4 linked regions of the Homo sapiens genome follow. The protein of the gene in region 3 purifies or fractionates together with the protein of the main gene of each other region. This does not show direct contact. Each region holds a gene or a part of one and is shown on either strand. Other genes may lie near its edges. The genes, in order: FAM168B, IFI27, IFIH1 and TNKS2.

Region 1 (4,030 bases), about 31 Mb from region 3:
CTCTCCCCTCCCCCAGCTCTAGGGTACACCATAGGACAGACACCGCAGGAACGAGGACTTACCTGCTGACATGGCCATGGTGGTCCCAGCCACCATGCCCATGGTGACCCCGTTGCCTCTAGGAGGGGGGATGGGAGCAGGGTACACCGTTGCAGGCATGCCGTTGGGCTGCACCACCGTGGTGTGGTGGATGACGTGAGGAGGTGCTGCATACAGCGGCTGTGTGTAGTACGTGCCTTGCTGTGGGGAGAAGAGAGACAACTGACACAGGGTCCCAGGGCCAAAGGATGAACGCCCAGGTGGTATCACCCCTTCCCACACAGCAGTGTGTACCCAAGCATACCTGTGCATACGGGCTCTGCTGGGGGTAGGCACTTCGCACAGGGTACACGGCAGTCTGGTAGGGGTTCGGGGAGGAGGAGTACGGTGGCACAGCCCCGCTGGTGGGGGAACAGGACACTTTGTAAGGTGTGCCAGGAGTGTAACCTGGAACAAAGAAGGCAATGGCCTGAGTTCACCCAAGCCGGTCCAGGCGCAGGGAGAGGACACAGGCAGGGAGGAGCTAAGCTGCGTGTCAGCCCCACGCAACTCGCCAGACCTGCTGCCACTGCCGCCCCCACTCTCCTCCACTAAGATCTGACTTCATTCTTACTTTGTGTACGTGTGTGCATGCACGTGTGTGTGGTGGCAGGGTGTTGGGGAGGAGGAAAAAATACCAAAAGAGAACGTTCTACAGATGGAATGCTCACACAAGGACAGGAAATAAAAACTGTCTTGTCCTGCTGGAATTTAAATTGGTATGGCATTCCTGGGGCTAAACTTGGCATCTAAAGTATATATGCCTTTTAATCCCACAATTCCACTTCTAGAAGTCTGTCTTAAAGCAATACACATGGATCTATACACACACAGAGACTTAACTGTAAGCATGCTCATCATAGTGTTGTTTGTTACAGCAAAAACAGGAGAAACTTGCCCAGCACCAGGACTGGCTAAGCACTCTATGGTAAAAAGCCCTCTGGGTTAAGGGAGAAAGCTGAACACACATACTTGCTTTTGTCCCCACACAAAATGACATGAAAATGACAATAAAGCAGATTAAGAGAAAAAAGACATAAAACTCACCAAGAATGGAAGAGAAGACAGCATGTTGAAGCCTGGCAAGCTGAAGTGGAGGATGATTGAGCAGACTCGAGAAGAAGGCACTCAGCCAGCAGCGAGGAGCAGCTGGCACCAAGAGAGCCGTTCCCCAAAGCCCTGCAAACTGCTGGCCACCAACCCGTCTCCAGAAGCAGATAAAGAGACCCCATCTAGTAGAGTGGTTGAGTTTGCTGAATAAGCAGTTAGGTGTCCCTTCCTGACCCCAACAGAGAAGAGGGGTTTGGTCTCAGGGGAGGGAGAGGGTCTCTGGACAGCTATGTTCACAGCAGCTATATTCACAATGATCAAAAGCTGGCAATGGCCCAGATGCCCACCAGGAGACAAATGGGTAAACACACTGTGGTGCATCCATACAAATCCTACTGAGCAAGCCAAAGGGACAAACTGCTGATCCATACAAGCACATGAATGAATCACAAAGCCACACCATGTCAAAGGAGCCAGATACAAGGACACATGCTGGATGCATGTACTGACAGAAGCTCTAGGAAAGACCAACCTAATCCAGAGTCATCAAAACCCCAGCAATGGTGCCAGGGGCCAGAGGGGCATGCGAGAACCTTTCCAAAGAGTGCATTCACTCAAATGTGGTGACGGTCATACAGCTGTGTATGACTGTCCAAACATACCAAACTGTACACTGAGAAGGATTAACTTATAATATGTAAATCAGACCTCCATACAAGTGCTTATGGCATCTCACATTCCCATGGGTGAGAGCAGGAGGGGTGGAGCACTCACACACTGTCCGTGTCAGACAGTGCAACTTTGCAAGCCAGAGACACATCCCGCAACATCCAGCAATCCACTCCCAAAACTTCCCCTAGAAAAATGAAAACACAGGTCCACGAAAGACTTGTAAAAAGTGTTCAATCTTATTCCTAGTAGCCAAAAATGGGAACTAATCCAAATCTTCATCAACTGGAGAAAGGATAAATCATGATATGTCTCTATAAACATTACTCAGCAATCAAAAGGAAAAAACATGGATGAATCTCACAACATGCTGAGCTTTCCAAAGAAGCTGGAAACAGAACAGCACATAGAGCAATGATCCCGTTTATTCCCTAACAACAAAGAAATTTACCTACGGTGACGGAAATCAGAGGGGAGAGGGCGAAGAAAGCGTTCTGGGATGATCAAAGTATTCCATGTTTTATTTGGAGTGGTGGTTCCATGGGCATGTACAACTGTCAAAACCCACCCAGTTGAGCACTTAATATGTGGGTGTTTTGTGCATAAATTATACCTCAAGTTTGAAAAAATGAGCTGAGTATAAAGAATTTTGGATCACCTGAGCCGGAGGTCAACGCTGCAGTGAGCTGTAATTATGCCTCTGCATTCTGCCTGGGCGACAAAGTAAGACGCTGTCTCAGAAAAATAGTAATAATAATTAAAGTTAATTTTTAAAAAATTTTACACAACTGGGCTGTTAGCAATATGTACGTGTGTGTATTTTTTTTTTATTTTTATTTTTTGAGATGGAGTCTTGCTCTATTCCCTAGGCTGGAGTGTAGTGGTGCAATCTCAGCTCACTGCAGCCTCCGCCTCCTGGGTTCAAGCAATTCTCATGCCCCAGCCACCCGAGTAGCTGGGATTGCAGGCATGTGCCACCACATCCAGCTAATTTTTGTAATTTTTAGTATAGACGGGATTTTGCCATGTTGGCCAGGATAGTCTGGAACTCCTGGCCTCAAATGATCCTCCTGCCTCAGCCTCCCAAAGTAGTAGGATTACAGGTGTGAGCCTGTATATATATATGTGCCTGGTCCATATATTTTGTTTTAATTTGAAAGGGAAAGAGAATGATTGGCCCCCTGGGAAATTCACTAGTCTGGGGCCTTTTGTTTGGGGTGCCAGTGCAATTCTGTGACATGGATATATTGCACAGTGGTGAAGTCTGGGCTTTTTCACCTAAATACTGCACACTGTATCAATTAAGCAACACGAAGCCTTCAACATCAGCCTTCTCATACTCCCCTGCATGCCCTTTCATGGTCTCACGGTGGGAGGTGCTGTGGCTGAGATCTGCAGCAGACCAAACAACAGGTGGTCCTGTCCTATGCAGCAAAGCGGGTGCTCACACCCAGATTTGTCTGCATCCAGAGTCCTGACCCTTCTACCCAAACCAAGCAACTCCCAACCTCAGCTAGTCTCCATTTGAAGAAAGAAAAGATTCCTCCAGGGCTCCCTGTATTTTGAAATTCGCTCACCGCTATGTTAACCGTAAATAGAAACACTGCCAAAATTTGAATACAACAACTTTTTAATACTGGTGCTTGGCCAAAGGAAAGCAGAATACGCAGATTTTCCATTAGGATTTGGAAAAGCAAGTTTCAAGACAAGAGCAGTTACAGAGTTTCCTTCTCTGGCTGCTCATCTCCTCGTCTTTAAGAAGGCTAAAAAAGGAAAGTGAAAAGGAAAGCTTCACAGGTGTACACAGGTTAAAACTCATCAAACTGAAGCTTTAAATCTGTACACTTAGTTGTATGCCAATTACGCCACAACGAGGTTGTATAACATTTTCTTTAATTATAAAGAAAAAGGTAGTGTGAATGCCATCAAAGAATTATAAAGGAAAAGGTAGTGTGTCCGGCCATGTACTGATACTCCCAGGAGACCCGGGACAGTCCAATTCCCCCTAAGTGACTAGCTAACTCAGGGAAGAAATGCAAAAAGGAAGCATGGTGTGTGGCGGGCACACATGTGACTAGTGAATGGTGACTGGGGCATTGTACCAACACAGAGAGGCTATTCACCATCAACATGGGGCCATGCCCTGTCACAGCGGAGATGATCAGGACAGATCCAGCCCTCTCCATAAGGTGCTTGGCTTCAGGGGGAAAAGAAATCACAGGAAAACAAACCA
Region 2 (4,110 bases), on a different chromosome or scaffold from region 3:
CCTGGCCATTATTTCGTGCCATTCAGAACCTGCCCTACCCTGAGACCTCCCTCCAACCTTTTCCTACTTCTATTAATATTTCTTTCTTTTTTTTTGAGACAGAATCTTAGCTCTGTCACCCAGCCTGGAGTGCAGTGGCACAATCTCGGCTCACTGCAACCTCTGCCTCCTGGATTCAAGTGATTCTTCTGACTCAGCTTCCCAAGTAGCTGGGATTACAGGCATGCACCACCATGCCTAGCTAATATTTGTATTTTTGGTAGAGACAGGGTTTTACCGTGGTGGCCAGGCTGGTCTCAAACTCCTGACCTCGAGTGATCCGCCCTTCTTGGCCTCCCAAAGTGCCGGGATTGCAGGTGTGAGCCACCGTGCCTGGCCTATTAATACTTTCTGTCATTGTTCATTGTTCTACCTCCTGTTCCAAGCCTGGAAGCAGCACACCCACACCCTTCTGTCCTGCCCAGAGCACTTGGACAACAGTAAATTGTCCCAGTTGGTAAATAAGGGACGATATTATCTTCTTATCTTCCTCTGGGGTTGTTATGAGAATTAAATTGACAAACCTCAAGTGCTAGGGTAAGTGACTAGAACATAAAAGCGCTTGCTTAAGTTGAGCTGTTATTATTTTAATTTTATGAATTGCTTGATCTTAAACTGAGAAGTCATCTGCATTTCTGACAAACAGAAAGGACTGCTGGGCGTGGCCCAGGCCCTTGCTTGCTCATCACACTTCTCTGTACTGAGTTGGGAGCCCAGAGTGGTGTGTGTTGCCGAGGGCCAGTTACCTCCAAGTTGCAAAACAGGGTGCCAGTGAGGGACCCCAGCATGAAGGAGCTAGCCTCCAGTGCCCCCAGCAAGGGTCTGAGGAGAGAGATGTTGGGGCTCAGGGCAGCTGAGGATGACAGGGTCAGCAAAGGGTGAGTGCAGGCTCAAACAGAGGTTAGAGGTTGGGGCAGGGGTCAGAAGTCAGGGTCGGAGTCAGGGGCCCTGTGCCCCCATTCAAGCCTGTGCCATTTGTGCTGGCGGAGTTGGGGGAACCCCTGGATGTCCACCCACGGAGACAGAAAGGTAAAGGGCAGGGGATACACACAGAGGAGCACTTGTCAGCAGGTAGAAGCCAGGATTAGATGCTCATCGAATGACACTGATGGATCTCAAGAATATGGTTCTCAGTGTGGAAAAAAGCAATAGAATGGGATCTACAGCACACCATCCTGCATGTCAGTTAAAATGCCCGCAAACAAAACACAATACCCATTCTGCAAAAATACATATGAAAAACAGACACACATTAAATATATTAGAAAGGTTGACTTTGAGGGAGGGGAATCGAGGGTGAAAAGGAAGAAAATGAGAATAAATAAAACCAGAAAGAGATCTCCCAGAAACTAATGAAAAAAGTGAGCTGAAGAATTTTGTTAAAATCGATACTCTGGATGTGAGATCCCATAGGACACGGGGCCCTATTGACAAGGTAAACTCCTAAAGGAGATGAATTCTGATGGTGAATCTGGGGGAAGGGAGAGCTGAAGAGAGTGGGACTCAGTGGTAGATAGACCCTTTCCGGCTAGGCAGGAGGAGGCCCGGGCCCAGAGGGGAGAGGACCTGTGGAACACCCAGGGCTGGGCATCTGGCCAGAGTCTGCCTGCCCCGGGCCCCCTCCCAGATGGAAAGTTAGGGTGGACGCCTGCTGTGAGAAGACAGGACAGGGCAGCAAGGCTGCGGGTGTCCCCCATTTTCTCTCCCACGGGTCCCGGGACAGGACCCCCGCCCTTCCCAGCCGCCTCCTCGCCCCCAGCACCAGCCCCTCCCAGGAACACTCACCCAGGGGCAAAACTACGGCAGAGCCAGAGGCCACCCTGACCACTTTGGCCACACTGGTCACTGCTGATGAGGTGAGAGCAGAGGCCTCCATGCCTGCTCGGGTTAATTCCGTGGCCTAGAGAGTAAGAGATCCTCAACTTCAGCCAGACCTGCCGAAGGGATGGAGCTCTGAGGACGGGATGGGCACACAACCTGACTTGCTTCCCACTGTCCTGAAAAATGTGACGGGCTCCAGGGGGCTAGGGAGGCTGCTCTGAGCTTGTGGAGCAGCAGGCCTTGAAAGGATCCTGGGGTGAGGGAGGGAGGGATGTTGGGGAGTTGGGGCTACCAAAGGACCTGTGTTAGGTCAGGGCCCTGAGGGACTTTATTTCCCCAGGGGGGCTGCTTTCTTTCTCCTGAAAGTCCCAGCGCCAATGTCTTAGACACTTCCGGGACTCCCTTATCTCTCCACGGAGCAATTGAAAAAGCACCAAAACTAAGAAATCAGAACCAATCGCATTTTTAAGGCATATACAGCAGGCGAGGTGCCTGCTCTTATGTAATCTCCTCACTAACGTGAAAAAGATGGGACCCTCCTCCTCCGCATGTTACAGATGAGGGAGCGCGATCTGGCTCAGTGATTTGCTCCAGGTCAGAAGCTTTCCATAGGGAAGCAACACCCCGCCCAGGCATGGACTTGCAATGGCTTCGACTTGGTTCCTCCTAACACTTATCTCTTCCCCTTGCCCACTTTACCCCAAGCCGCCCTCAAGGCCTGAGGAAAACCTGGGCAAGGACAAAGCTAATTGTCCTTACATTCCAGAGTCCAGGGACAGGTGGGGCTCGAGTCCCTTCCCATCTGAGGCTCCCTGATGAGAACAAAAACACCGGGCAGAGAGTGGATGCTTAAGGCCTCCCCTCCGCTCCCTGAGCCCACAGCCCACCCAAGGTCCGGGGCCACGGGAAGGGTAGCTCCTGCCCACCCTCCCAGTCTTACCCAAAGAAGGAGAGTTCCTGAGAATGTGAAGCTGACCTCACCGTCTTAAGCTTGGATGTGTTCCCAAAGGGTGTGATCCCAGGCCTTTTAAGCAGCTCCACCCCGACTGAAGCACTGCCCCTTGACACAGGCAACAAATGAGATAGGTTTCATTTTCCAGGAAACCGAAACTGCAGACATCTTTCTCCCCTCATGCGCAGTCCAGAAGAAAATTCAGTTATTTACAGAAATAGGATTTGCCCATGGCATCAGTCATTGTCAGTTAATATAAAATGCTTTGTCATTTAATTCAAGGATGGGAGTGTGCTCTACGCAGAATGAAGTCACAAGAAGTAAGATCAAAGTTCTATAATAAAATGATAAATATTACTTTCTAATGAAGAAGGTGATTTTCAGAATAATAGTAGTCCTTGCGATAGGCAGATGTTCCGTTTTTCAAAAAAAGTCTCAACTGAAGGCCCACTGTGCTAGATACTGACTAGGCACTGGGACAGGACTGTAAACAAAACAGACCAAAATATCCATCCTCACAGAGTTTACCAGCAATGGGGGCAAACTAAACATAATAAATAACTAAATGTATAGAATGTTATTTGATGAAGCGCTAAAGCAAAAGGAGGTGAAGCAGTGACCTAGGCAGAATTATGGGGGGGCAGTCATTCCAGGTGGAGGCCACAGCAGTGGCAGAGCCCGTGTGGCAGGAGCAGCAAGGGGGCCAGTGTGGCCTCAGCAGGTGGGCAGGGGAGAGAGGCAGGAGGTGAACTCAGAGTTTAACAGGGATCCAGGCCCTGTGAGGCCACAAAAGCACTGCAAGGACTTGATCTTGTGTCCTGAAGCCATTGCAGGGGATTATCATCTATACCTTTTTGGGGAAAGGGAGATGAAGCTGAGAAATGACACAGTCAGGCTCACCCTGCAGCTGCTTTGAGAACAGGCGGAAGAGAAAGCACCAGGTCCTGGAATGTACATTTAAATCTTCCACATGAGTAGTGTGCGAGTTGTAAGATTCAAAATGGAGTCACTTGGGTAAAACCTCAGCAGACAGAGCCAGCAAGGCTTTAATGGGAGGGCTCTCACGCAAGATGAGGCTCTCCCGTTTGCCTGCTAACAGGAACTATCACAAGAAATGTTTCCAAACTGCAGCTTATCACATGGGCCACACAAGGACAGCTAGAAGCACAGGGAGAGCGAGCCAGTTATGCAAAAACACTTGCCTGGCACAGTGTCTCACAAACCCAATCCAAAACTGCAGGAACCTGACCATAACTCCAAGATTCCCAGTCCTACCTAGCAACTACTGACACTTGGCG
Region 3 (4,030 bases):
ACCAAAAATATACAGTTTTATTGATTAAAAATTAATTAATTTAAAAACTATTTGGAAGTATAAATTAGTAAAACATACAACGAATTACACTAGAAGGTTTCATGAATTGTGGCTCATCTACAATCTTGCGCTATATCTAATAATTAGGATGGTTTAATAAATAAATTCATTACAATTGTCTTGACAATAAAACTGAATGACCAAATGACTGACTGTGATCATACAACTGGTAGCTAATCTGGTCATATCATTAGAAATAGTTCCAATCTGAGTGGGATTTCTTCTTTCAAAAGATATTTCTCTTTTTGGAGAGCTTATGAGAAGCAGTAAGTTCATGTTGAAAAGGTAAATGAATGACACCAGTATATGTTACTTTGAATCTTACCAAAAAATAAAGTCATGAGAAATCTATCTGTTTCATCCAGTTTCAAAGGTTTCTTTAAATCATCCTCATCTTCATCACCATCACAATACTCATCATCACCACCCTCATCACTATCATCTTCTATGACTGCAAACTTCTTATCTTTCTCTTCATTATAGAAAGTTTCAAGATGAGTATACGCATCTATCATTCGAATTGTGTCATTAATTTGTAGGGCCTCATTGTACTTCCTCAAATGTTCTGCACAAACACGTTCTTTGCGATTTCCTTCTTTTGCAGCTGTGAAAAAATATATTATGTAAGTGAAATAATAAGCATATAAACCCCCTAAAATTGTGCCATGGACTTGAATATATGTTACTAACTGCAAAACTGGCTTCACCTTGGTTTTAAAATGGGCAAGTTAAGGCTCAAAATGTGTCCTGAGCTCTGAAACAGGGCAAGTTTTCCAACTCCTAGACTTGCTGCTTGAGTTCTGCCTCAGCAAAAACATGTAGCTGATGCACAGAGAAATGGCATGAAAATATATTAGTTGAGTTTGCCTTTGGAGACAGAGCTATTAAAGTTTATCTCAAGACTCTGGAGACAAAGAGAAAATTGGATAGCATTGGAATCTCTCTCCTTAGAAAAGGAATTAGAACATGTTTATTATGCTTGTCCTACAGAGAACACAGAAATTCTATTTGGAACTACTTTTGCTTTCCATTTTTTGGGGAATCTGTGATATAGTCATCTAAAATCTTGGTATAAACATGGGATAAACTAAGTGTTAGGTCCAAACCTAAATTACCTTTTTTTTCCATTTGAATGGCCCATTGTTCATAGGGTTGAGTTCCAAAATCTGACATTGGACTCATTTGACAATAAGTTTGAATCCTTGTCATTATTTCTAGAAGTTTCTCTTTAAATGGATCCTAAAAATAAAGTACACACTTATTCTTATGTATTCTTATTGTTAAAGGAATAACATTATCTTTGTTAGAATAATTTCTAGGTTATAATAAATCTGATTCATCTTTGTTTAGACAAAGTAACAGGTTAGTGTCCCATCACTTGTCTGTACATTTATTTTTGTCAGCTTCTCTTTTAAGCCTGCCATCAAGCCACACCCACACCAACACCCTGTTACCTCTGCTGGAATCTCCAACTTAAAAGGTTAACAAAAGTAAAGTTAATGAATTATATAAACCTTGTATGTTAAAGGTAACTTAGAAAACACATATTGCATTAATGCCACAATTATTTAGAAAGCTTACAGTGTAATTTAAGAAACATTCCTCCTTTGTAAAACTGGTTTCAGTATTATTTCGACCAAAATAAAAAGTTGAAGTAGAGTCTGAATAAAGCCAGAAATAAAGGAGTGCATGCTATATGATTCCATTTATATAAAGTTCAGAATCAGTGAAAACTCATTTTTTGTTTTAGAAGTCAAGATAGTAGTGATTCCTGGGGCATGGTGACTGGAAGGGGGAGCCAGGAGCTTTTAGGATACTGGCAGTGTGCTGTCTCTTGATTTGGATTTTGTTTACATATGTGTATTCAGTTTAGGAAAATTCAGCAATCAGTACACATATGAATTTGTACTTTTCTGTATGTATGTTATGCTTCAAGGTATATAAAAAAATTAAAGTAAGTTTAAAAAATGGCAAATTCTTTTAAAAAATGTACCTGAGAAATTTAGTTTTAAAAATCTTTATGAGTAGAAACATGCATTTAAAATTATCAAGTAAAACCAAATAAGTAACAAAAAAAGGAAAGTGAATAAAATATATTCAACTGTGCTAGTGCAGCTGGAGTAGATAGCAGTCTTTTTCAGAATTTAAAAAAAGAGATATACGGAGGCTAGTTACTAACATTGGTTTAGTGCCTACTATATTTCAAGCATTGTTTTATCTACTATGCATATTTCATATCATTTGATCCCAACATTCTTATTTTCAATGGTATTATCAAGTACATATGGCCAGAATTTGTAATGCTTTCTAAATTTTACAAAATAAAGTATTGACATAATTTACTGGCCATAATGTCCAAATTGACTCTCAGTTTATTCTTATAATTCCTGAAAAATTCATCAGAAAAGCATCATTAAAGTAAATATTTCACTTCTTTACCATTGCACTGTTTTCCTAAGAAAGTAAATATGCAAGTATGCAAATTAGATAGGATTCCCATTATCATTGCCAAATGTAATTTGATAGCAACAAAATGGCTCTGTGGAATGTCAGAAAATCAATCCTGGAATTCACGAAGAAAATTAAAAAGGCTAAAACGAACTGTCATAACCCCTCCAGCTTAGTTACACATCCCTCTGCCCATGGCCCCTCACTGTCCCTTTTAACTCATATGTACAAACAATGAATAAGCTATTCCTCATGTAAATTAGAAAACTAAAAGAGGTCTAGAGGCGAGAATTCACTGTAGTGCTTTACTGCCTAACATCAATTAAAAAAAAACCTGAAACTTGTTTGCTAAAATTTTTAAATAATATTTTTCAGATGGTCAGTATAAAATAGCCTTTGCCATCTTTCTACTGAATGTAGTATTGTCAATCAATAGATATAAAACATTAAGCCCATACTTCTCTGGTTGCATCTGCAATGGCAAACTTCTTGCATGGCTCCTGTATTTGGTTTTTCAGTTGATCAAGGTTTTCTTTAACAGTTTTAATAGTAAATGCATCAAGATTGGCACATAGCTGGAAAAGAGACATTTTTCAATATTTATGCAATTATTTTTCCCTTTCACTTTATTCAACGTAGAACTCTTTTTCATGTAAAAAATATGTAGCATTAAATTGTAGCATAAATATGTGGTATAAAATTTCATGAAAGTAATATGTAGCATTGCTTGCTAAATATAGCATTTTAACATTGTTTTATTATGGATCTCATTAACCCACAATCAGCAACATTTGTCCTAATATAGGAAAAAGGAGCTTCTAAATCAAGTTGGTGTAATAACAGAGAAAAAGGTGTATTGATATTCATTCCTTAAATTCCATTTTCCAAGTGGAAAACTGACATGGAAAGAGTATAACAATTTACCATCATTGACAGAGAATGATTTTGAGATAACCATGTTACATGAGGCATATCAAAGGTCAACTTGACATCCGTGGATCATACTACCACCTTCTTCTACACATAAAGCAGGCATCTACACATAAAGCTGGGAGCATCCTTAGTCATGTTCCTTGATTATTAGATTGGAATTAGTCCTTAATCCCAGTAATAAATTATATTTTGGAGCCTATAATTGCATCTCTGAATGTTGTGTCTACTCTACATAATTTGTATTGAATTCAACTTAAAGTAAGGGACTTAAAATTCAAATGCAATTGCCTTGGTACCAAAATACTTCTTGGGCTACTCTGATTTACTTAACACTCAAGATTAACAGTAGCACTGTATGTGGTGTTACCATTAGGGGGCAGCTGACAAGCTCATCTTTAAAGATCTTCATATCCCTATTTCCCTTTAATTTGAATTACCTAGATTCCTAGAATAACATATGAAGGACAGAAAATACGCAGTTTTGAAACTCATGGAGTAAGACTTTATTATGTGTGACAACTAGAAACTTTCATAGTTTATGCATATTTCTATATCAGGTAGATCATTAAATTTAACCATAAGAGTAGAT
Region 4 (4,030 bases), on a different chromosome or scaffold from region 3:
TAGCTATAGCTCAGTGATTTTAATGATTTCCTAACATCTGTAATGCAGCTGAAAAAGCTGTACTGAAACCACAATATATTGTATATTTGCACTGAAAACAAAGGTACACTGTGCCAGTTTTATGAGTGAAACCTTAAAACAAATGTCACGAAATGAATTGTACCCTGCAAAATTCTTATGTTGAAGCCCTAACCCCAGTACCTTAGAATATGACTCTATTTGGAGACAGAGCCTTTAAAGAGCTAAAAAAGTTAAAATGAGCCCATTAGGGTGGGCTCTAATCTAATTTGACTGGTTTCCTTAAAAGTAGAGACTAGGACATATAGAAAGAGACACCATGTTCCAATGGAGGACACACTGAGAAGGTAGACAGCTGCAAGCCAAGAGGGGGTTTCAGAAGAAACCAACTCTGCCAACACCTTGAACTTGGACTCCTAGCCTCCAGAACTGTGAGAAAACAAATTTCTGTTGTTTAAGCCACCTGGTCTTTGGTATTTTGTTATGAGAACTCTCACAAACCAAAACAACAGATAACTTTGGTGAGAGGCTTATGTAACTTCTGAGAGTTTTGAGATTTTTTTTTTTTCCTGCTTGTGCTTAGCAGCTACCATCAGGAAAAATAGAAAGCTTTAGCTTCCTATAAGGAAGGCTGGCTCAAGTAGGCATATTTTTCAAAACTTGTTTACCAAAGGTGATACCAATAAAATGATTACCTGGAATAATGATTCCCAAAGCACATGGGGACTGGCAGAGCCTACTTCAATTGTTCTTACTGAATGTAACATACTAGTAATAAAGTGAACTCGAACTCAGCTAATAGCTTCAAGTACGGTCGTCCTGTACAAATACACTGAAGAGTATAATGGTGGCATTAGAAGATACTTGATTTGAATTTTTATTTATTTTTTTTATTTTTTGAGACAGGGTCTCACTTTGTTTCTGGAGTACAGTGGCACAATCAAGGCTTATTGCATCCGTGACCTCCTGGGCTCAATCTTCCCACCTCAGCCTCCTGAATAGCTGGGACTACAGGTGCACACCACCACTCCTGGCTAATTTTTGTAATTTTTTATAGAGGTGTGGTTTTGCCATGTTGCCCAGGCTGCTCTCAAATTCCTGGGCTCAAGCAATCCTCCTGCCTTAGCCTCATAAAGTGTTGGGATTACAAGTGTGAGCCACCATGCTTGGCCTGATTTGAATTTTTAAAGTTTAGTTACAGAAAATATTTTACCTGGGTAAAATGAATCTCAGATATTACCAGCCTAAATCTGTGAAACTTCATTCACTTACCTGCTAAATGTAAAGGTGTTGAATGTCTGCCTTGGGTATCGCGGCAATTTACATTATCAGGAGAAGACAACTTCTTCACTCTGGCTAAACAACCCTTCTTGGCAGCATCTAGCAAAGCTGCATCTCCCCTAAGCAGATCTTGAATATCTGTATCTCCATCTTTAACAAGATCCAAAGGAGTATTTCCATCCCTGTTTTTTTTTGTAGGGTCTGCACCATGCTAGGCATGTGAAAAACAGAAAAAAAGGGGGAAATGGCTTAAATGTGCCTTTGGTCAATGAGAAAATAGTCAGTGTTAACTATACCAAAGAAAAACTAAATTTATATTGAGACTCTACTTTGAAGGTTAACATCACTGTTACTAATGTTTATACAAAGAATTATTATAAAAAGAATACAGAGGCAGTTAAATATTACTGGATTTTTTAATGCATTAATGTAGTCAAAATTTTAAACTACATTCAAAATAAAGTCATATTTCATTAAAAATTAACTTTCATGTTATACTATTTTTACTTTTCATGAACATTTAAATAAAGTATAAATCTCTGTATTCTTGTTATTGTAAAATATCCACTGGTATCTGTACTGAACCAGTATCATCCATTTTATCAATGCTAAATAAATCTGGCTTGTAAGTAAATAATTCATCAAATATTTTTATATTTGATGAATATAAAAGTACCAAAGAGAAAAACTAAAAATAATAAGAGAACTATCACATGATAGTTGGCTCTAGACAAAAATAACTCTAGGTGCTAGTAAACATACTTGTGGATTAAAATATAAAATGTTTATTATATTTATTCTAAAATCTAGGTACAGAATTAGGTAACATTGCTTCCCATTGCTTACTAGTTTAACTTTATACTAGAATTATTTAGAAAACCATAAACATATGCTATGTAATTCATACTCTTTACAGTTAAGTATTTAAATATACCTGGAGCAGAAGTTTGCAAATTTCATATTTTCCTTTTGCTGCTGCTTCATGTAAAGGTGTAAATTTCCATAAATCAGCTACATTAACTACTGCTCCATGTTTAACAAGAAGTTCTGCAACTTCATAATGTCCATAAGAACATGCATTGTGCAAAGGTACAAGGCCTCTGAAAAGTAATAAATGAACAATAATGCCACAGAAGAACATGTTTTAATTTAAATAATTACATATAACTGATGAAAGATAATTCTTGAACTACATAAGGAATTATACTGATTATACTTTGTAGAACCTAAATCTATTTAAGGCAGAAATAAGTTCTTTTTGGTGAGTCAGGGGAGAACATTTAAAAAATGTTTTAAATGCAGAGACTATAACATTCATCCATATATGCAACGTCTAGAATTGTATATTTTTAATAAAAAATAACTTCAAGATAAACTGGAAGAATTAAAAAACCCTCCATGGAAACTGAAAAATTTACTACATTAAAAGTCAATATCACACTAATGTTATAATCTCCTTGGCCATTATAAAATTCTCAGGCATTATGCCAATAAAGTCTTTATATGAATGCTAACCATATAAAATCTTAATTGAAATTAAGAAGCTCTATTTAATATTTAGGCCAATGTTAGGAAACAGGCTTTCTTGAAAAATAAAACATATTATATTTCCAGGTTTTCCTAAAAAGGTCAAGTAAAAGTAAGGAAGAGAGTCCATAACAATCATTGGCATTTACCCTTTATCTTTAGCATGCACATCAGCTCCATGCTGTAGCAGATATTCCACCACGGACACTCTGTTATACCCAGCTGCAAAATGAAGTGGTGTAGACTGACGCCCTTCAATGTCTCTGCAGTTGACACTCTGAACAGTACACAGTTTCTGAAGGACAAAACACAACATACATGATACTACATCTACATATTGTTATTTCTTGTTTCAAGTCATTTAGTAGGAATTTTCAAAGTGTCTGACTTATTTTCTTGTCTCATTAAATCAGTATTCTCAGAAACTATTTAGTATTCTTATTTCACCTTGTCATTTACTGGGAATCCCTCTGGTCCTCTCATCCATGCCCTTTTTTTTTGTCTTATTATTTTTTTGAGACAGAGTCTAGCTCTCTTACCCAGGCTGGGGTGCAGTGGCGCAATCTCAGTTCACTGCAACCTCTGTTTCCTGGGTTCAAGCAATTCTCCTGCCTCAGCCTCCCGAGCAGCAGGGACTACAGGCACATGCCAGGACACCTGGCTAATTTTTATATTTTTAGTAGAGGCGGGGTTTCACCATGTTGGCCAGGATGGTCTTGAACTCCTGGCCTCAAGGGATCCTCCCACCTTGGCCTTCCAAATGCTAGGATTACAAGTGTGAGCCACCGTGCCTGGTCTCACGTATGCCTTTATATTCTACTTTTTCTAACGCTCAAGGGTAAATTTTATCATTACCGCTACTATATATATATACAGGTAAACTAAGTGCCAATCATCAGCAAGTGTAACTTGCATTTTGTGGCAAATATACATAGAGGTACATGAGATTACGGTAGTACCAGCATTACCAAGGAGCTTATTAAGAATTCAGAATCTCAGATCTCTATCTACTGAGTCAGAATTTGCCCTTTAACAAGATCCCTAGGTAATATGGAAACACATTAAAGTTTGAAAAGTACTCCTTTAGAGCAGTGGTTCTCAAACTTTAATGTGCATTGGGTCCAACCCTCAAATTTTCAGTGTAACTGGTGTGGAGCCTAAAAATCTCCACTTCTAACAAGTTCTTGGGTGATGCTGATGCTGG

What was found.
Region 1: the proteins of IFIH1 (region 3) and FAM168B purify together in Homo sapiens (co-immunoprecipitation; one large-scale study listed by IntAct). This does not show direct contact.
Region 2: the proteins of IFIH1 (region 3) and IFI27 purify together in Homo sapiens (affinity purification with western blotting; one study listed by BioGRID). This does not show direct contact.
Region 4: the proteins of IFIH1 (region 3) and TNKS2 purify together in Homo sapiens (affinity purification with western blotting, with the first as the bait; one study listed by BioGRID). This does not show direct contact.

Annotation. Positions count from the first base shown.
Region 1 is NC_000002.12:131,055,210-131,059,239, forward strand, and holds part of FAM168B (myelin-associated neurite-outgrowth inhibitor), read right to left. Parts: intron 487-4,030; coding exon 344-486; intron 241-343; coding exon 63-240; intron 1-62. UniProt on the Homo sapiens protein: Inhibitor of neuronal axonal outgrowth. Acts as a negative regulator of CDC42 and STAT3 and a positive regulator of STMN2. Positive regulator of CDC27.
Region 2 is NC_000014.9:94,109,488-94,113,597, reverse strand, and holds the start of IFI27 (interferon alpha-inducible protein 27, mitochondrial), read right to left. Parts: upstream 2,801-4,110; intron 2,784-2,800; exon of another isoform or gene 2,620-2,783; intron 1,974-2,619; 5' UTR 1,916-1,973; coding exon 1,825-1,915; intron 1-1,824. UniProt on the Homo sapiens protein: Probable adapter protein involved in different biological processes. Part of the signaling pathways that lead to apoptosis.
Region 3 is NC_000002.12:162,277,030-162,281,059, forward strand, and holds part of IFIH1 (interferon-induced helicase C domain-containing protein 1), read right to left. Parts: intron 3,084-4,030; coding exon 2,967-3,083; intron 1,300-2,966; coding exon 1,176-1,299; intron 665-1,175; coding exon 386-664; intron 1-385.
Region 4 is NC_000010.11:91,839,652-91,843,681, reverse strand, and holds part of TNKS2 (poly [ADP-ribose] polymerase tankyrase-2), read right to left. Parts: intron 3,122-4,030; coding exon 2,976-3,121; intron 2,400-2,975; coding exon 2,234-2,399; intron 1,511-2,233; coding exon 1,291-1,510; intron 1-1,290. UniProt on the Homo sapiens protein: Poly-ADP-ribosyltransferase involved in various processes such as Wnt signaling pathway, telomere length and vesicle trafficking.